2 linked regions of the Homo sapiens genome follow. The gene in region 2 interacts genetically with the main gene of each other region. Each region holds a gene or a part of one and is shown on either strand. Other genes may lie near its edges. The genes, in order: NPY and PMCH.

Region 1 (11,392 bases), on a different chromosome or scaffold from region 2:
AGGGCTTCCCTACACTGTTTATTTTAGTTAGCCATTCATCTAATCTGTTTTCAAGGTTTTTAGCTCCCTTGCAATGGGTTCGAACATCCTCCTTTAGCTCAGAGAAGTTTGTTATTACTGACTTTCTGAAGGCTACTTCTGTCAACTTGTCAAAGTCATTCTCTGTCCAGCTTTGTTCCATTGCTGGTGAAGAGCTGCAATCCTTTGGAGGAGAAGGGGCGCACTGGTTTTTAGAATTTTTAGCTTTTCTGCTCCAGTTTCTCCTGATCTTTGTGGTTTTATCTACCTTTGGTCTGTGATGGTGGTGACCTACAGATGGGGTTTTGGTGTGGATGTCCTTTTTGTTGATGTTGATGTTATTCCTTTCTGTTTGTTAGTTTTCCTTCTAACAGTCAGGTCTCTCAGCTGCAGGTCTGTTGGAGTTTGCTGGCAGTCCACTCCAGACCCTGTTTGCCTGGGTATCACCAGTGGAGGCTGCAGAACAGCAAATATTGCTGCCTGATCCTTCCTCTGGAAGCTTCGTCTCAGAGGGGCACCCGGCTGTATGAGTTGTCAGTTGGTCCCTACTGGGAGGTATCTCCAAGTTAGGCTACACAGGGGTCAGGGACCCCCTTGAGGAGGCAGTCTGTCCATTCTCAGAGCTCAAAAACCATGCTGGGAGAACCACTGCTCTCTCCTGAGCTATCAGACAGGTACGTTTAAGTCTGCAGAACTTTCTGCTGCCTTTTGTTCAGCTATGCCCTGCCCCCAGAGGTGGAGTCTACAGAGGCAGGCGGGCTTCATTGGGCTGTGGTGGGCTCCGCTCAGTTCGAACTTCCTGGCAGCTTTGTTTACCTACTCAAGCCTCAGCAATGGCAGATGCCCCTCCCCCAGCCAGGCTTGCCACCTTGTAGTTCGATATCAGACTGCTGTGCTAGCAGTGAGCAAAGCTCTGTGGGCATGGGACCTGCTGAGCCATGTGTGGGATATAATTTCCTGGTGTGCTGTTTGCTAAAACCGTGGGAACAGCACAGTATTTAGGTGGCAGTGTCCCAATTTTCCCGGTACAGTCAGTCATGGCTTCCCTTGGCTAGGAAAGGGAAATCCCCTGACTCCTTGCACTTCCTGGGTGAGGCGATGCCCACCCCTGCTTTGACTTGCCCTCCGTGGGCTGCACTCTTTGTCCGCCCAGTCCCAGTGAGATGAACCAGGTACCTCAGTTGGAAATGCAGAAATCACCCATCTTCTGCGTCGATCAGCTGGGAGGTGCAGACCAGAGCTGTTCCTATTTGGCCTCTTGGAACGGACCTAAAGAACACTCAGAAAATATTTCAAGGTAAACCCAGAAGGTTGTGTAGGTGTTGGCCAGGTAAAGAGTAGGGAGAGAGAATATCTCAGAGAGCAGACACAGCACAATGAAGGCCCAAATAGGAAAGCTGATTGGCATATTTAAGGAGCAGAAAGGAGGACAATGGACAGAAATACAGGGAGTGAAGAAAAAAATTATGTTAGATGAGCCTAGGAGGTATGTAGGGTCCAAAATATGTGGGGCCTTATAGTTCAATGGAAGAATTTTGAAAACATTTTACACTTCATATGATATTTAATTAGACATTCATGTTAGTGGAAGCTCCACTTTGATAATCTAAATTTGAGGCCCTTGATGGAGTTTTTCTGAGCTAGACGTATCGCCCTGGTTTCCAGGTATGAAATCTGAGCTGAAGGGAGAGATTTCAGGATCATAAGCTGTAGGAGTAGATGAGCTTATGTGTGCAGTAGAAAGGTTAAGGCTAAGACTATGGGTACAGAAGGGTGAGTCAGCAAAGGAGATGGTGGTACATTCAGAGAAAAAGGAGGTGAATCAGAGAGACAAGAGAAAGTAATGGTTAAGAGATGTCAAATATCTGATAAAGATCCATGTGGTTTGCAATTAGAAGGTCTTACTGATAGCAGGTTTATAACTTGATTCAGATAGAACCTAGATCACAGTGGTTTCATGACTACACCTATGGTGAATAACCAGAGACAATGAATAGAAACATCTTTTTAAAGAAGCCTTGCTACAAGACTTGCTCTTCTGGCCAAGATGAAGAAACAGGAACTGGATTTACCCTCCCTGCTGAAACAACTAAAACACTAGACAAAAATAGATGAAACAACACTTAAAACATTGGACATCAGTAAAGGACAGTAATATCTTAGAGATAGAAAACAAATGACAAGAGCCATACAATGGTCCCAGATCACTGCCTGATATGGTTTGGCTGTGTCCTCACCCAAATCCCATCTTGAATTGTAGTTTCCTTAATCCCCACGTGTTGTGGGAGGGACCTGGTGTGAGATAATTGAATCATGGGGGCAGTTACCTACATGCTGCTGTTCTCATGATAGTGAGTGAATTCTCACAAGATCTGATGGTTTTATAAAAGGTTTTTTCCCCTTTGCTCGCCACTTCTCTCTCCAGCTGCAATATGAAGAAGGACGTGTTTGCTTCCCCTTCCACCATAATTGTAAGTTTCCTGAGGGCTCTCCAGCCATACAGAACTGTGAGTCAATTAAACCTCTTTCCTTTATAAATTACCCAGTCTTGGATATTTCTTCATAGCAGCATGAGAATACACTGCCTGAAGGAGTCATCCAGGCTACAGTGCAGAAGGAAGGAATTGAATCATCCTGGCCAAGGAGCTGGGGCTGGAAGTGTAGGGAGCCAGGGCAGCTAGTGTCCACAGGAAGATTATCAGGTAAAAGAAAGAATACTCTGAAAGTCTGAAGGGTGTCCCCCTTGAGGATTTAGTTGATTATTGATCAGATTATACACAAGAACAAACCACCTGAGACCAGGAAAAGAACTACACAAAAAGATAAGGGTAAACTGTGTCTGATGCTGACCAAGGGCTGGGAATAGTGTCTATCTGAACAGCCAGAGGGGAGAGCTGTGCAATTTGAGGTGTGCGTGTTGGGGGGAAGTCAGTTACCAGTTAAAGTAAAAAGAAGGAATTTTGCCTCAAAGTGTGGAAAGAGTAAACCTAGTCTAAAACCAGCTCTGGTCCCACCTAACAAAACTCACATCCAAGACCTGAATGGATAAAACTGTCTTTAAATTTTTAATTGTCTCAGAACAAGCTCAAGAACAGTCATAGAAAGACAAAAAAACAAATAACAAGGTAAAATCCACAATATCTGACATCCTATCAAAAATTATCAGGCACACAAAGAAGAAGAAAAATATAAGCCATAATGTGGAGAAAAATCAATCAACCCAAAGTATACAAAAATCACACAGATGTTAGTAGTACAAAAGTTATTATTAATGTATATTCAAGAAGCTAGAGAGAAGAGTGGACACGTTTAGATACGGAAGATATAAAAAAGATTCATTGCTTTATATTGTCCTGTAACTTAAAAAAAAGATTCAAGTTGAAACTCTAGAGATGAAAGCTACCAGGTATAAGGTGCAAAATACACTGGATAGGATTGGCAGTAATCAGATATTACAGAAGAAAACATTAGTGAACTCACAGACATAGCAATAGAGACTATCCAAAATAAAATATGAAGGAAAAAATGAGCAAAACAGAAGCAAAAACAGATCACCAACAAACTGTGGGCCAATATACACTCACCGTCTGACTCAGCCATTCTGGTTTTAAGTATTTTCCAAGAGAATTAAAGGCTTTATGTCCATACAAAGACTTGCATATGAATGTCAAGGCAGCTTTATTCGTAAAAGTTTCAAGTGAAAATAACCAAAAATTCATGAGCAGTAGAATTGATTAAAAATTTTGAAGTATATCATATAATGAAATACTGCCCAGCAATAAAAAAGAATAAACTATTGCTACATTTAACAATGTGAGTGGATTCAAAAATAATGATGCTAAGTGAAAGAAGTCAGACAAAGAGTACCTACCGTGGAACTATATTTATGTGCAATTCTAGAAAACGCAAACAAATCTCTAGTGATAGCAGATCAATGGAGGAGGGGGTGAGGAAGAGGCAAAAGGAAGGAATTACAAAGGTACATGTGGAAATTTGGGGAAGTGATGTATAATCTTCATTTTCTTGGTTTCAGTGATGGCTTCCTGAGCATATAACACACATGCATATGTGTAAGAATATATCCAATTGAATATTTTACACATTTGTAGCTTTGTATATATTCAGCAGTATCTATTCATTCCTTCTGCTTCTTTACCTTAGGTTTAGTCATGAAACCACTGGGTTTCATGTGGTCCAGGTTCTATCTGAATCAAGCTATGAACCTGCTATCAGTAAGACCTCCTAATTGCAAACCACATGGACCTTTACCGGTTATTTGACTTCTCTCGGTCATTACCTTCTCTAGTCTCCACTGATTCACCTCCTTTTGAATCTCAACAAGCTCAACAGTATCTCAATGTTATCTTAACAAAGCTGTTAGAAATAAACAACTTGACTTTGAAACAAAGGAGAGAAATGGCTCAGCAGCTAGGAGAAGATGCAGGGTTGAGTTGCCAACAGTTGGTTTTGTTTGTATTTTGGCCAGGGGATGTGGCTTGGACTGGAGAGAAAGGAGATAAGGATGTAAGCACATGTAGGGCATATCACCCCCTATTTTTTATTCTCTGAATCCTTAACCCTCAGAATAAGTTCTTATTCTTGAGAATCAATGACATTATCTTAAGCTAAATTAATCAAGCCTCCACAGTGTTCTTCTCTCAATAGTGGTGTGGGCCTTCCTAGAAGTAATTTTTCCCAAATTCAGTGATACATTTTAAGTTCAGATTTTAATTGATATGAATCTGTGATACACTCTAAAATAAGATTATTTTATTGAAAAGTGGACTGTAACTTTCCCTTTATCTAGGAAGAGCTCTAAGTTAGAAGATGTTTTGCACTTTTACCGAAGGCTGTGTCTTGTAAGCACCCCCGAGCAACTCTGAGAGCCTTGATTTTTGTGTCCTCAGCATATGTTTGTGTAATACAGAAAGAGAAGCAGTTGCCAAGTGAAAGGGATGTTGGTCTCCAAAATTATAGTTTGATCCCACAAACACACAAACACATACATGCAAAGGATTGTTTGCTTCACGGTTTTTGATATTTAATTCAATGCTGTTGGAACAGCACAAAAACTAAGTGTCAGTTTAACAGAATCACTTGTCCTTTTAGCATTAAAATAACATGGAACTTAATGCTTTAATTTCCCAACATGCCTTTTTATTTAGAAAGATTCAGACTTATATTTCATTTAGAAATAAAATGCCATTTTATTTAGAAAGATACAGGAGCATTCATTCACGGAACTTTCAGATCTCAGTCCACTGCATAAAATCTTGATCCTGTAATAATAGTTTCTGTATCTTGCATATTCATTCAACAGGTTTAACGCGATGAGCAAATTAATGTTCATCGTTTTTAACATGTTTCATCTTAATCAGAACCCACATTCTCAACGTTAATTGAACGTACATAGGACTATACAAGGGTTAGTAAATAAGACAGAAACTGTTGTTCATTTAACCACCGTCACTTTGGACCAAAAAAGAAAAAATATATATTTTTAAAATTGAGCTTAAAAGAGTCTCTAGAAGCTGGAAGCGTGGCTCTTTTTCAGCAAACTGGGGGAATAGGTTTACCGTGTTCCCCCTCTGGGGAATTTTGAGTCGCCACACTCATGTCTCGACCGAGCCTGGCTCGCTGCGTCTGAGCGAGTACTTGAGGAAGGCTGATCTAGAAAAACCAGCTGAGAGAAGGGGCAGAAGCCCCTGAAACCACGGGCGGGGGTGGGGTGGGGAGCGCAGCTTTGGGACCCTCTAGCCGGAGACTTCCGGCAGCTGCCTCCGACTTGTTCTAAGTACAGGAAAAATCTGTGCGCCCAGTTGCCTCACTCCAACAGCGCGCAGTTGTGCCCGGCGAGGATGCCGCGCTAGTCGTGGAGATGCCCCACCACAAAGAGGATTCAGGTGCTTCCTACTCCGGCACCCAGTGGGTTGGTAGTCCTGTTGGCAGGAGACAAGAATCGTCTGGGCTGCTCCTATCTCTGGCAGGACTAGACGGGGCGTGAAGGAAAGAAGGAAAGAAGGAAAGCAGGGATCGGGCACTGCCCGAGGGCAGATACTTGGGCTTTGGTGTTGTCCAGCGCGCTCGGAGTGCGCTGCCTCGCTCACGCGGTCCCAGGCCCCGCTTCTTCAGGCAGTGCCTGGGGCGGGAGGGTTGGGGTGTGGGTGGCTCCCTAAGTCGACACTCGTGCGGCTGCGGTTCCAGCCCCCTCCCCCCGCCACTCAGGGGCGGGAAGTGGCGGGTGGGAGTCACCCAAGCGTGACTGCCCGAGGCCCCTCCTGCCGCGGCGAGGAAGCTCCATAAAAGCCCTGTCGCGACCCGCTCTCTGCACCCCATCCGCTGGCTCTCACCCCTCGGAGACGCTCGCCCGACAGCATAGTACTTGCCGCCCAGCCACGCCCGCGCGCCAGCCACCGTGAGTGCTACGACCCGTCTGTCTAGGGGTGGGAGCGAACGGGGCGCCCGCGAACTTGCTAGAGACGCAGCCTCCCGCTCTGTGGAGCCCTGGGGCCCTGGGATGATCGCGCTCCACTCCCCAGCGGACTATGCCGGCTCCGCGCCCCGACGCGGACCAGCCCTCTTGGCGGCTAAATTCCACTTGTTCCTCTGCTCCCCTCTGATTGTCCACGGCCCTTCTCCCGGGCCCTTCCCGCTGGGCGGTTCTTCTGAGTTACCTTTTAGCAGATATGGAGGGAGAACCCGGGACCGCTATCCCAAGGCAGCTGGCGGTCTCCCTGCGGGTCGCCGCCTTGAGGCCCAGGAAGCGGTGCGCGGTAGGAAGGTTTCCCCGGCAGCGCCATCGAGTGAGGAATCCCTGGAGCTCTAGAGCCCCGCGCCCTGCCACCTCCCTGGATTCTTGGGCTCCAAATCTCTTTGGAGCAATTCTGGCCCAGGGAGCAATTCTCTTTCCCCTTCCCCACCGCAGTCGTCACCCCGAGGTGATCTCTGCTGTCAGCGTTGATCCCCTGAAGCTAGGCAGACCAGAAGTAACAGAGAAGAAACTTTTCTTCCCAGACAAGAGTTTGGGCAAGAAGGGAGAAAAGTGACCCAGCAGGAAGAACTTCCAATTCGGTTTTGAATGCTAAACTGGCGGGGCCCCCACCTTGCACTCTCGCCGCGCGCTTCTTGGTCCCTGAGACTTCGAACGAAGTTGCGCGAAGTTTTCAGGTGGAGCAGAGGGGCAGGTCCCGACCGGACGGCGCCCGGAGCCCGCAAGGTGGTGCTAGCCACTCCTGGGTTCTCTCTGCGGGACTGGGACGAGAGCGGATTGGGGGTCGCGTGTGGTAGCAGGAGGAGGAGCGCGGGGGGCAGAGGAGGGAGGTGCTGCGCGTGGGTGCTCTGAATCCCCAAGCCCGTCCGTTGAGCCTTCTGTGCCTGCAGATGCTAGGTAACAAGCGACTGGGGCTGTCCGGACTGACCCTCGCCCTGTCCCTGCTCGTGTGCCTGGGTGCGCTGGCCGAGGCGTACCCCTCCAAGCCGGACAACCCGGGCGAGGACGCACCAGCGGAGGACATGGCCAGATACTACTCGGCGCTGCGACACTACATCAACCTCATCACCAGGCAGAGGTGGGTGGGACCGCGGGACCGATTCCGGGAGCGCCAGTGCCTGCACACCAGGAGATCCTGGGGATGTTAGGGAAAGGGATTGTTTCTTTTCCTTCGCTCTATCCCAGGGCAGGACAGTATCAGGCACTTAGTCAGCTCTAGGTAAATGTTTGTACAGGGCACACTCTACACAAAATGGGTACCTTCCATTTTGTGCAACTACAGTCACAGAGTCGTGATCCCCAGATTCAGGTTCCCCAGGCTGGTAGGCTGGCAATCTCCTCTCACTCACCTCTTATGGTTTGTTGTGGTTCTTACGGCAGTGGGGCCCGGTCCAGAAATCTCGAAAGTACCCAGTGAAAGGGGCAAGAATGCGCCAGAGAAATGCTGTAGGGGGAAACGCTAGCAAGGTGTCTAGGAGAAACAGAACGACCACCAAAGAAAACCAAACCAAGGAGTAAACTGCAGGGTTGCCACAGACATTGTCAGACTTTCCGGCCTGCCCAGGGCTAATTGAATGACAGTATTTAGAAAAAGACAAATAGAGCTATTTTCTTTTCTTCTTCACTGTGTTTTTTTTGCAGTCTCACTCCCATATTTGAAAATTCTAGTCCCAATAATTAGAGATTTAGCCTGAAAACAGTTTATCTAAAATGCAGAGGTCTCCCTATTTTATAGCTGGTGAATTCTGAAAAGAAAGTGCCCACTTGGTATTTCATTAAGAAGAAACTTACGTTGGTCCAGTAACTTTAGGATGAATTCAGGGATTACATGGAATCTGAGAAATTGTAAACTTTATTCTGAACATTCCGAAAGTCAAAATGAAATGCCATATTTTCACTCTCAACATTGACAATTAAGGGAAAAATCAAATCCAAACTATTTTACAAATTACATAGGATTTAAATTTTGTTTTCAAAATTGGTTGATCTTAGTTCTAAATCATTTAATATCTTATTTTAATTACTGAGATTAAATGATTTTAGTCATTTGACCGTATCTAAAGGATAAGCCCTTTAGAAGCATTAATGTTAGTTAACATGTTTAAATTATATGTTTAAAGTATTGTGGGGTTTATATATTTATTTATTTAGTCCATATTTTTACTGTTTACAAGTCAGGGAGTAGTTGGAAAGGATCCAAAAGGGGGGAAGATTTATACTTTTAAAATAAAGTTTGCTTTTTCCTGTTTCATCAAAAAGGTATTTAACATCCTAAAACACTTTTGAAAAAGCCCCAATTTATATAGAATCTGAAAAACATGAAAATGCCAGAATTAAATAGTAGTTGTTTGTGATCCCTTGAAATCTGATCATTTTAATTAGCAAAAAGCAATAATATTTTATATTCCATACTTCCCAGAAAGTTAATTGATTCAAATTCTTGCTATGTTATGCCGTCATGCAGATCAAAGAGAACTTGTACAAACAAAAAGATATTAACTGTTTTTTCTAGAAAAACCTTTGTTAGTTATTTAGCTGTAGCATAATACACAGTAGAACTCATTTTTCCGAAGATGATTGCCATAAAGCTTTACCATTTTACAAAGCTCTAGCATTTTAAAATGTTTTCCTAGGCATTCTCTCATTCAGTCGTTACCTCAAAGCTTTGAAGGGAGTATAATTATCTTCATTTCACAAATCATGAAGCTAATGACATTTCATGGAAGCTATTTTTATAGGAATTATGGAATTGGAGCCCTCCTTTGAGTGTCTTTGGATGTTGTCACCACCATCAACAGGCAGTGTTATCTCCAACATGTTTGATGAGAAAAAAACATAAAGGAAAGGGACTTGGGTTTCATGGCAAGAGATTCAGCTTAGATGGGAATGAGCTGGTCTCTGAGGCAGAGTTTCCTGTCTCATCTTTGTATAAACTCCTTCTTAGAAACCAGCAGAGGCTCTTAATGTACGTCCATCTTCTCCTTCCCACCACAGACACCCACTCCTATGTGCGTTTCTGAAAATTACAGGGTCATTTGTGGATGTGCTTTAATTTAGTATAGATATAATCTGATATCATTATCTTTCTTTCCCCCCGCCCCCCGCCACCAGCATTCCCCCTGCACTCAATTTGTGCTTATATTCCTTTTGCTGTATATATACCCCTGGCTCATTGCTTCTGGAAGCTGCATTACTTATTCTAGAGTGTGGGTCTCCTACAATTTATTTATATAGCCCCCTAAATCAGTGGTTCTCAACTGGGGGTGATTTTATGCTCCCCAGGTGTGATTTGGCAGTGTCTGGAGACATTTTTGGTTTTCACAACTGGAGGTGGGCACTGCTGGTACCTAGGTGTATAGATGCCAAGGAGGCTGCTAAATATCCTACCATGCCCAGGACAGCCCCCATTACACAGAATAGCCAGTCCCAGAGAAACTCAGCCTTAGATTAGTGTTTCTCCTTCCTGGCTGCACATTAAAATTATCAGGGGAGCTTTTAAAATACACTGATGCTGGGATCCACCCCTGACCAATTAAATCAGACCCTCTGGGATGGGGCCTGGGCTTTAGAGTGTGTTTTTAACACTCCCCAGGTGATTCTAATGTGCAGCCAGGTTTGAGAATCTTTACTCTAAGGACTCAATCTTTGAAAGTTACAGCATTGTAGAGGGGAAGGATGATCCAGAATTAATTAAAGAAGGAAGAAGAGTGAACAGTACTGAACTGGATGCAAGATTATGACTGTGCAAATCCTCCTATTTCAGATTTAGGTTCTTTACTGGTAAATTGGATAAAAAGTTGGCAGTTCTTTTACTCACTGGAGCATGATGAAGATAAATGAGTTACAGTTGCCCTAGACTTTTACGATTAGTAAAACCAATGGATGGACAGAATAAATAAGTATAAGCAGACACCTATAGTCTAATATCGCAACTCCAGAAAATCTTTGAGAAAATCTCACACATGATGGGAGTGGGACAGGGAGTTGTTTTGTTTTTGCTTCCCTTGAGTCTCAGCAAAAGAACAGTCATAGAAAATATTTCCAAAAAATTTAGATATAATTTTGCTTGGCAATTAGAATATACCCTCTGTCAGCTTTGTTCAGTTGTTGGACCTATTAACCAATCCATACCAGACTAATTTATTTCTAAACAAAGTGGCGAATGGTGTCCAATGCCTTTTCTGAGAAAGAGAAAAATGGCCTCTTCAAAAGACGCAATTTGGTATAGACTTGTCTGGCCGTTTTGTAGTGTTCTGGAGTGGGGAGCATATACTACCCTCACAGGTAAACGAAACCTTACCTGTATGTATTGTCTCACCCATATCCTGCTACAGGAGAAAAAAAAAAAAAAAAAAAAAAGAACATTTCCATGGATCAGTTAGATTCCTTTAGACTTACAGGGAGGCTAAAATCACAGCATTAGGAAAGACTTTAGCATTTGGCACCTTGAATGAATATGGAAAATATAAGACCCAGGGTCTGTTGGTAGCCAGAAGAATGGATGCATTTCAACAGCAGTAATTTGCATGCGTGTATCACTTTGTCACTTTGAAAGCATTGTGACTCACATTTCACACTGGATGTTCACAAAGACTCTGATTTAAGCAGGGGTTGTTTTACAAACGAGAAAATTGGGATTCAAAGACACAGGTGGGTCTTGGACGGCAATCTGCTGATTTTTTTTTTCTAGGACTGTCTTTGAAATATCATCTGGTCTCCTTGTTAAGATTTAAACTGCTGTGTATCATCAGAACAATAGCCAATTAACTAATTGTGGAAACATTTACAATCATGCTTCCATGTTTTCAAATTTCCTGTCACCTAGTTATAAAAGTATGTATCTCTATACATATTATTTGTGGTTGTTTAAGAAGGCAGGAATTT
Region 2 (10,185 bases):
CATGAAACATAATTTTTAGTGATCTGGGAGATGGAGACTGTCACAGACCTCATTAGTCAGAAAGATAGAAAATTTGTCATCCTAGGAAAACTTGCTTTTATGAAGCAGCTGGACAGACGAATATTCTAACTTTTTCTAAGTCATAGTCAGTAGATTTCACTGCCATTGTCTTTACAAACATCTGAGTGAATTAATGCATCGATCTTTGAACATATAATATATAACTACTGAATATATAAAGTCATGCTGTTTTAGATTTCATGACTGTATCAACAAATACTCTGTAAGTAATAATCAGGGTAATGTAGTTATACTCGAAGTGTTACATTTTTGAATTACTGAAGTCATCTTTATTGAATTATGTATTTGAAACTTTGTCTATGTCAGAAAATGATTTCAGGTGACTTCTAATTATTTGGAGACATCTCTCCATTAAACCTGAATGGTATTACACATCATTTGTAATTGTTGAAATTGGCATTATTTGTATAGGCTACTTTGTTCTAAAATTAATTTCTATCCCCAATAGCTCACTGGTTTATGTTTGTGGAACAAATTTCCAAAACTACTTTTTTTGGCATCCTTTTCAGTGATCAAGAATTGAGTTCATCTTTGTAATTTTCTCCTATTTATGTAGAAAGTTAGGCCCTCCTATTTGATGTTTGAAGATAAATGCAAGAGTATACTTTGGATTTCTGACCATTAAGTCACTTGGTCAAATCTTTCTAGACTGATACATTGAATCATCTTTCTTGTTTTCCTAAATACTCGAGAAATAATGTCTTTCCTATATCATTTTGTTTTATCTTGCAGTTTCTTTGCTAGTTTCCTGTTTTTGATTGACCTCACTTAGTTCTTTTTTTCATCTTAGCATTTCTTCCCTCCCTAATTTCTTGAATTCCATATGCTATTTTTTTTCCAAGAGTGTGTTCTTCTTAGGATGAAGAACTTGTATTTTTCTATGATTATGTATATCACCTGTATTGTTATTTTACTTACAATAAGACGCTCCAAAGCAGTGCTGACACAGGAACATGTAACAAAGCCCTGCGAAGAGTCTAAAATTGATTGTTTTGTAACTGTTACCAAAAAAAAAATCAAAAATATACATAAAGCTATTATTTTGGAAAAGAACAAAAATGCTAGCCATAACAATGAATGAGTTTGCAAACTATGAAATATAAAAGGTTAGAGAGAGGTTCTCAATGAGTAATAGAATTTCTAAGGGAAATTTTTATACCTTGATTACTATAGAGTGTGTGTCTATCTAGATGAAGAAATAAAATAATGAATAAATTTGCATATTTTCTTCTTTCTTTCTGTTACTAGATGAAGCAAACTTTAATTAGATCCCAATTTGCTTGTACTTATAAAGATGACTACATGATAAGCAAGGATAATTGGAATAATGTTAATTTAGCATCAAAGCCTTTGTGTGTTCTTTACATGGAAAATGACCTTTCTGGTAATTGACCTTATTTGTGCAATTAAATAACAATTTAATTCTAGTCTACTAATTAGTTTTAACTTAAGTAAAATTAGGTTATTTTTGCAAAGTACTATGAAATGTAAAGGGTAATATTTTTAAAGACCTCAGTTTATTTAAAAAGTTAAATCTAAGTACAAATTTATCGATAGGAATAGGACACAGTTTGATTTAACTAAATGTATTTAAGAAGTAATTTGTAGCATATGTTTAAGGATTAAATGTCATGCATTCAAACAAATATTTCTTAATAGGGCTGACAAGTTGATTACTGGCCAAAGCTAACTCAGAGGTGCTATGATAAAATGAAAAGTAATAGGATAGTAATGTAGCTATATTTGTCAATCATATTATTTATAGCATTATTTTACTTTAAAAATTTGAATATTCGTTAGCCATTTTTAAAGTTTATTGTAAAGTTCTCGTAAATATTAATACTCAATATCATGTAATTCCTTTCCCCTTTTTATCTTGCATAACAGAGGGTGTAAATCCATCTGTTGGAAGATCAACAATTGGAACGAGTTTTGGAAATGTTCATCTGGACAGAAGTAAAAATGAAAAAGTATCAAGAAAATCAACCAGTCAGACAGGAAATAAAAGCTCAAAAAGGAAACAGGTGGATTTGGATGGTGAAAATATTCTCTGTGATAATAGAAATGAACCACCTCAACATAAAAATGCTAAAATACCTAAGAAATCAAATGATTCACAGAATAGATTGTACGGCAAACTAGCTAAAGTAGCAAAAAGTAATAAATGTACTGCCAAGGACAAGTTGATTTCTGGCCAGGCAAAGTTAACTCAGTTTTTTAGACTATAAATTTGTGTCTTATATGCTTTAGGTTTATGTATCTATAAACCATTCACCAAAGACATGCTTAATTTTTAAGAGATCAAGGTGTAAATTATGATGATTTATTATTTTGGTCTACAGTGTATGTAAGGTTAGTATGTTAAGCATTGTTTAAAAATACTAGTAAGTCATAATTATGCAGAATTTTCACAAAGTTTAATGCACAGAGAAAGCATATCATTTCAGTTACTGATACATCTTAACACTACTTTCTTTTAAAACAGACATTTAACATACACAAGTTATAGTAGCAGTATGGGCTTCTCCTCCCATTGGCAATTAAATGCTTTTATTTTCTTCTGAAAAGATGATGTGGACCAACAGGTATCAGACTTGCCAACAAGGTCGGTAGACTCTTCCCAGCATACATCTGAGCACTGAAGGAAGAAGAAAGTTTAAATTGTTTAAAGGACTATAATTATCACACAAAATTTATTAAGAAAAAAAGAATGGATCTAGTATAACTAATTCTGAGTAAACCAAAATGATAATAATTAATTGTTGCTATTTAATCCCACATTTTTGGCAGGTGTAATTGAGCCATGGTCTTATTTGATTTTGTTATGATTGCATCCAAATTCACTTTAACTCAGAGTTCTGTTTAATGGTGGTAGGATGTAAGAATTGAATTTTGAAAAGACTACTCACTGTCAAAATCTCTCCTTCCTATAGGAAATTTAGCTGAGTTTTCTTCATCCCCAATTTCTCTCTTTTCTTGTGTTGATTCAGTATTCTGAACTCCATTCTCAGCTGGGAAAGCTACAGATCCTTTTAGTGCAAGATAAGGTTTTATAGCCAGATTCAGTGGCAGACCATGATTTAAGAAATTATGTTTGGAGCCTGTGTTCTGTAAAGAGAAGGTTGATTTGGTTTTTAGCTATCGTATTCGGAGTGGAACTATAATACAATTGTATAATATTCTTGTTGATCAATTCAAAGTTACTCTGCACTGTTTTTGACTTTTTAAAAATACCTTAGATGCAAATTTATAGGAGAAAAAACACTTTCAGATAAGAGGTGTTTGCTGGGATGGAAGAACTACCTGGCATGTAAGAAATATCGTCAGTCGTCCTAATGCATATTGTGACTGTTTGCATATACTTCTGTTTATAAAAGTATCAGTTTTACTTTTCAGAGGATTTGTAAGAATCATTTAAATTTTCATTGAAATAAACGACAAGTCACATTGCCACTTACCTTTGAAACTTTATTTTCCTCTTCGTTCATGAAACTGCTCTCATCATTTTTATATTGTTCCAGGGAAGGAGCAATAACTGATTTTTCTGCAGTGTCTTCCTTCTGAAAGCCTTTCCCCAACCTGAATGTATTAAATACCATGTCATCATCTAAATTTCTTATGGACTTGGATGCTGAAAGTAAAATACCTTGAGAAAACAAAGAAAAAGTTAGTATTAATATATAGGAAGAGAGATTCATTTTTGCCATTCTTAGTTTGATGTTTGCATACAGTCAAACAAGAAAGAAAATGAAAAATTTCTCTGTCAGCCTGCTTGGTAAACGATTCTGTATCTTTATATATTTTCTAGCTTGAATAGAAAGCACTTCAAAGAATTATACTTTTCATCATTTTAGAAATGACTCATTAGATTGAGGCTAACCTTTATGCAGCTGCTAATACCTACATTGTTTTGGTTTTAGTGACACATTGTTTATTTTGAGTGTGAATTTTCTCAGAATCTGACTAAGATCCTTGGTAGAATGCTTTCTGTTGAGTAGATTATAGTCTCTTGAAAATGGGTTGTTATTAAGGAAGACCACAGGACATCAGGCTCTCTCTATATTATTGTTTCCTTTTGTGTATTTTCTGATTAAGTAAAGATATTAAAACTCAAGTTATTTCACTCAAGGATGATAAGGATAAAGTTTTATTTCCTTTTAATCCTGATTAAACTGAAATAATCCTCAAAAGAGACTTTCTTTTATAAATACTTGATATAGTTTTTGGTGATTAAAGTACATATGCCTGTCAGTGTGAACAAAAAGCCATTCATGCTATATCAAAAATTGACCTGTCAGGTGTATTTTATCTCTGCATTTACAAAAGGATAATATGTACAAATATTTATTAATGAATTTAGAAATTAATGAATTAGTCCATGAAAAGAATATTTATGTGCCCATAAACATTACTTTTGGATGATGAGTTTATGTTGTATGACTTTTAATTAAACATTTCAGAGTTAATTTCTAATTTTGACCCCAATGAATAAGATAATACATTCTTTTATATGTCTTCTGGTACATATATGTAAGAATTTTTCTAGAGTATATTTCTCAGTATGGAATTACTGGATCATGGAGTATGTATATGTTCAGCTTTACTAATGCCAAAATGTTTTCCAACATAGTTGTAAGCGATTTGTGCCCTCGATAAGCAGGGTATGAGAATTTCCATTGTTCCATGTCCTAGCTGACTCTTGTGTCTCATTGTCCTTTTAATTTGTATTTTCCTAATTACCAAAGAGGTTAAGTGTCTTCCCATATGTTTCTGAGCCATTTATGTTTCCTCTTATGTTAAATGCTTTTTTTTTTTTTCTTTTTTGGCTTTGTCCATTTTTCTATTGGGTTGTCTTTTTCTAATTTATTTATGGGAGTTCTTTATATATTCTGGATATTAATTGTTAGTTATATATGTTTCAATTATTTTCGCTCAGTTTGTGACATATTTTCAACCCCTCTGGTGTCTTTTGGTGAACCAAACTGATTAATTTTAATGTTTAAATATTTTTCTTTTTTCTTTATGGCAACTACTTTTAATGTGTTGTTTTTTTTTAGAAATCCTTCTCAATCCTTAGATTATTAACGTGTTTTCATATATTTTCTTCTAAAAGTTTAAATATTTTGACTTTCATGTTTAGGTTTGTAATTCATCTGTAATTTTGTGTATGATATAAGATAGAGATGTAATTTTACTTTTTCCAATGTCCTTATATATTTCTTGAAGAAGTCATCCTGTCCCCACTAATCTGCAGTGCCATCTCTACAGTATATCAGATTTCTATATATGTGTGGGCTCCTTTCAGAACGTTCTATTCCACAGCCAAATCTACAGTATTAATATAACTTTAAAATAATTTTTAATATCTGGTCAAATTTCCCAGCCCTCTACTTACCCACATGTTTTTCTTTTACAGCAGTTCCTTAGCTATTCTTAGTCATTTCTTTTCCATATAAATCTTAAAATCAGCTTTTCAAGTTCCGTAAGAACACTTGACAGGATATTAAGGTTCTAGTTAGGTATCCCTTATCTGAAATGCTTAGGACCAGAAGTATTTTTGGATTTGGGATATTTTTTTCAGAATTTGGAACATTTGCATTATATCAGTTAAGTATCCCAAAATCTGAAATCTGAAATGCTTCAATGAATATATATTTTTTAGCATATTGTTAATGCTTAACAAGTTTCAGATTTTGGAGCATTTTTGGATTTTGGCTTTTCAGATTTGGGATGCTCAACTTATAATCACATTGGTTTTATAGATTTATAGATTAATTTTGGAGAAGAACTGATATCCTGAAGGTAATTTATTATCTATGAGCATGACATTTTTCTGTATTTGCTTAGATCTTCTTTAATCTTTTTTTCTTCTTTAATCTTTTAATGACATTTTCTTTTCTTCATAAAGGTCTTGCATACCTTTGTTGAGAGAATTATAATTCTTTATAATTTAATTGAATTTCTTATTTTTGGTTATTATAAATTGTATTTTGAAATGATCTTTCTAACATTATTGCTGGTATGTGCATGTGCATTTGGCTTGTGCATAGTAATTTGATAACAGAAAAAAACTTTCTAAACTCTTATTTTTTTTTCTTTTTAATTGTTTATAAATGTATAGATTCTTTGGGATTTTGTATGAAGACAATTGATATAAATGATAAAATAATGGCATTTTATCTCTTTCTCCTAACTTCATCTATATTGTGTATACATGTCTTTGTGTCTGTTCATGTGTTCATACACACTGGCCAAAGCCTCCAGTAAATACTGAAAATGGAGAGAAGAGATATCTTTACAGTGTTACTGATTTTACAGATAATGATTTTAATGCTTCACCACTGAGCGTAATGTTTGCTGTAGGTTTCTTATAGATACTTGCTATAAAGTACAGGATGTTCTCTTTTGTTTCTGGCTTACTAATAGTTTTTATCATGAATTGTTGTTGAATATTATTGAATGCTTTTTTTGCATATATTGAGATGACCAGATCATTTTCTCCTTCAGTCTTTGGAAATATTAACAGATTTTTCTAATGTTAAACTAACCATGTGTTCATGAAGAAACCTTTAAATTATCGGATTCAATTTGGCAATATTTGATTTAGTACATTTTACATTTATTATGAGTAAGATTGATTTGTAATTTTCCTTTTTTATATTGACTTTGGTTTGATATTAAGTTTGTACCAATTTCTTACATTGAGGGCAAGATTTATCCTTCTTTCTTTTCTCTCTTGTTAGACTTTGGGTTTGGTGTTTTCTTGGTAGGATTTTTGTTGTTAAGAATTGATGTACTTTCTTCAGTAGCTGTAGTAACATTTAGCTTCTCTGTTTCTTTTTTAGTTTGTTTTAGGAATTTACATTATTGTATAATTTGTCCATTTCACTTAAGTACTTTTTATCTGAGGTAGACTTAACTGCTGATTTTCTCGGGGACTATTAAGATCTTTCTCAGTAAATGTTTTGTGATTATAATTATAAACAAAGGACTCTGACATCCCTTGACTTCTTTGATCTTAGAGCTTCCTTATCTTTTTAATGTTGTTAGTTGTGCCCTACTTTGTTTCCCTTGGTTTGAACCTGGTTTGGATGTGCCTGTTTAATCTATAAAAGTCCTTGTTAGGCTGGGCACGGTGGCTCACGCCTGTAACCCCAGCACCATGGGAGGCCGAGGTGGGTGGATCACCTGAGGTCAGGAGTTTGTGACCAGCCTGGCCAACATGGTGAAACCCCATCTCTACTAAAAATATAAAAATTAGCTGGGCATGGTGGTGGGTGCCTGTAATTCCAGCTACTGGAGAGGCTGAGGCAGGAGAATTGCTTGAACCCAGGAGACGGAGGTTGCAGTGAACCAAACATGGTGCCATTGCACTCCAGCCCAGGCGACAGAGCGAGACTCTGTCTGGAAAAAAAAAAAAAAAAAAAAAAAAAAGTCCTTGTTAATGGAAATCTTTTTTCTTAGATGCTGTTGTGGGAGGGTAATAAATATTAATAATTATGTACTTTGTTTTAAATTTCCACTGGATGAATTGGCTTGGCTGATCTTCACTCAAAATTGGGACCAAATCCAAATGATTTTGACGGTTTAGAGAAGTTAATGTTTTATTTTGTTTAAACTGTCATAGCCTCTGAGCATTATGAGGTTTTGCCATAACCATTTAATTATGGAGATAGTTTCCAATTTTTTTAATGATAACTTTTTTTAAAAAAAACTTTGGTTACTGTGATGTGCAGTGGAGCATAGTAGACTTCTTTTTCATTGATGCTGAAAATGGTATGTCCCCAAGTAGTAGAAGGGAACTTTGGAGAAGTAAAACTATTGCCAGATGGGCTTGGGTGGTTCAGTAAACCTTACAAAGGCAAAAGGCTTATATAAAATATGATCTTCATTTTCTGTTGAACTACTGCTAACACTGTATATTTGCAAGTCACTTTATTAAATTTCTCTTTGTTCCAATTAACACATCTTTGCTATGTGTCACCAGTAAATTAAATGGCAATTGGCCATTGGCTTACTGAGAATCATCAATTTCTTAGTGGCTAATTGTATGAGTGTAAAAACAAGATTGCTCACTTATATAAATTATCAAAAGATATAAGAAAACTTAAAATTCCTTCTCAGATTTCTATAGTAAACAACCCATACACTTTCACCTAGCGTTTACCATTAACGTTTTACTTCTATCCCTTCATCCCTTTATTAATCATCTTATTCTTTTAATGCATTTCAAAGGATATTGCATATATCAGTATGCTTTTCATGAAATACTTCAACATACGTATCATTAACTGGAATTTAATAGTTGTTTACAGCTTTTTTTTGAAGTAAAATTTATGGAAAGTAAAATGCATAAACTATAAGTGCATATTTGCTAATTTTTGACAAATGTGTTTGCTTATGAAACCCAAAGTCCTTTCAAGATACAAGACATTGCCATCACCCCAGAAAGTTATGTCTTACCTTGTTAGAGTTTACATGTACCACCATTTTCCCCACTCCCACCCGTCATTCCAACTCTGCTCTTAGACAATCACTGTTCTAATTTCTTCTGCTGTGAATTAGTTTTGCCTATTTTGGAAATATACAGTATGACGTCTTTTATGGAAGGCCTCTTTCACTCAGCATGTTTGACATTCATCTTTAATGTTGTAAGAAGCAGTAGTTCCTTCCTTTTTTATTACCGTTGTATAAATATACTACAATTGACTTGTCTCTTTTCCTGTTAATGGACTCTTGAATTGTATCCAGTTTTTGGCTATTACGAATAACACTATCTACATTCTTGCACAAGTCTTTTTGTGGACATGTGTTTTTATTTCTCTTGGGTAAATATATAGGAATGGAATTGCTAGGATATAAGATAGATGTATCTTTAATTTTGTAAGAAATTGTTAGATTATTTTCCAAAGTGATTGTACCATTTTATACTTCAACAAAGACTGTATTAGAGCTTTGGTTGCTCCACATCCTCACCAGCATTTGATGTTGTCAGTCTTAATCTTAGCCATTCTGGTAGATGAGTAGTGATATCGTGTTTTAATTACATTTTCCTAATAACTAATGATGTTGAGCACTTTTTCATGTGCTTGTTAGCTATTCATATATTTTCTTTTGTGAAGTGTCTGTTTAGATCTTTTGTTCATTTTGTTGGGCGAGGGATGTTTCTTTTTATTACTGAGTTGTAAGAGTTATATATATTACATATATATTCCTCCCACCCCAGAAATTCCCCCCAACCCCAGAATTTTCTTCTCTTTATCTATGTTTCCAACTGGAGTGGGCCACATGAGACATTCCTGTATAAGATTGGAGAGCAGAAGTGAAGCAGATGTCACGTACGGTTCACACATGATGTCGCTTATCTGCTGGCTCATGTCGTTGGCTCTGCAGCAGTCAGACCTGCGACTGCTCCACTTTCGCTGGATCCACTTTCAGTTTCTCTGACTCCTGGGACACATGTGTGCAGTTCTGTGACAAAGGAGACTAGCTGTCCTGAGGACATCCATACCATTGAGGTCAGATGCAGCAAGATATGATATGAGTTTCAGTCTATCCTCATGGGTTTCAGCTCATGCTGGTGAATTCCAGTATGTTCTTCTTCTTCCCTACTTTACATCCATCTTTCCTTCCTGGCAGCCTGCCCTGTGGACTCCAGCATTAGATGGAATGATCTGCTTAATATTGCTTAATTAGCTTTCACAATTGCATGAGACAGATTTATGTAACAAATTGTGTATATATTTCTGTATATGTGAATATGTATGTGTGTTGTTCTGCTTCTGTGATTGACTTCTGACGGACACTTCCCAACTCTTTTTATGAGTCTAGCATAAATTTGGTACCAAGACCTGATAATGCTATTACAAGAAGGGAAAATTATAGGCCAATATTTCTAATGAACATGGATGTAAAAATCCTAAACAAAATGTTATCAAATAGAATCCAGTTATGAAAAAGGTAAAATTTCATGACCAGGTGAGGTTTATTTCAGGAATGTAAAATTGAACTTTCAGAAAAAAATTGGTAAAATTCACCACTGTAAATGAATACAGGAGACAAAAACACGATCATCTCAAATATAGAAAAGCACAATGATTGGCT

What was found.
Region 1: of PMCH (region 2) and NPY, changing one enhances a phenotype caused by changing the other (phenotypic enhancement), as found in Homo sapiens cells (one study listed by BioGRID).

Annotation. Positions count from the first base shown.
Region 1 is NC_000007.14:24,277,843-24,289,234, forward strand, and holds the start of NPY (pro-neuropeptide Y preproprotein), read left to right. Parts: upstream 1-6,347; 5' UTR 6,348-6,433; intron 6,434-7,398; coding exon 7,399-7,586; intron 7,587-11,392. UniProt on the Homo sapiens protein: NPY is implicated in the control of feeding and in secretion of gonadotrophin-release hormone.
Region 2 is NC_000012.12:102,193,983-102,204,167, forward strand, and holds PMCH (pro-MCH preproprotein), read right to left. Parts: upstream 3,852-10,185; 5' UTR 3,789-3,851; coding exon 3,540-3,788; intron 3,539-3,539; exon of another isoform or gene 3,190-3,538; coding exon 2,991-3,189; coding exon of another isoform or gene 2,983-2,990; exon of another isoform or gene 2,720-2,982; coding exon 2,670-2,719; 3' UTR 2,477-2,669; downstream 1-2,476. Other genes in the region: PARPBP (PCNA-interacting partner), read left to right, coding at 1,330-1,465, 1,969-2,309. UniProt on the Homo sapiens protein: MCH may act as a neurotransmitter or neuromodulator in a broad array of neuronal functions directed toward the regulation of goal-directed behavior, such as food intake, and general arousal. May also have a role in spermatocyte differentiation.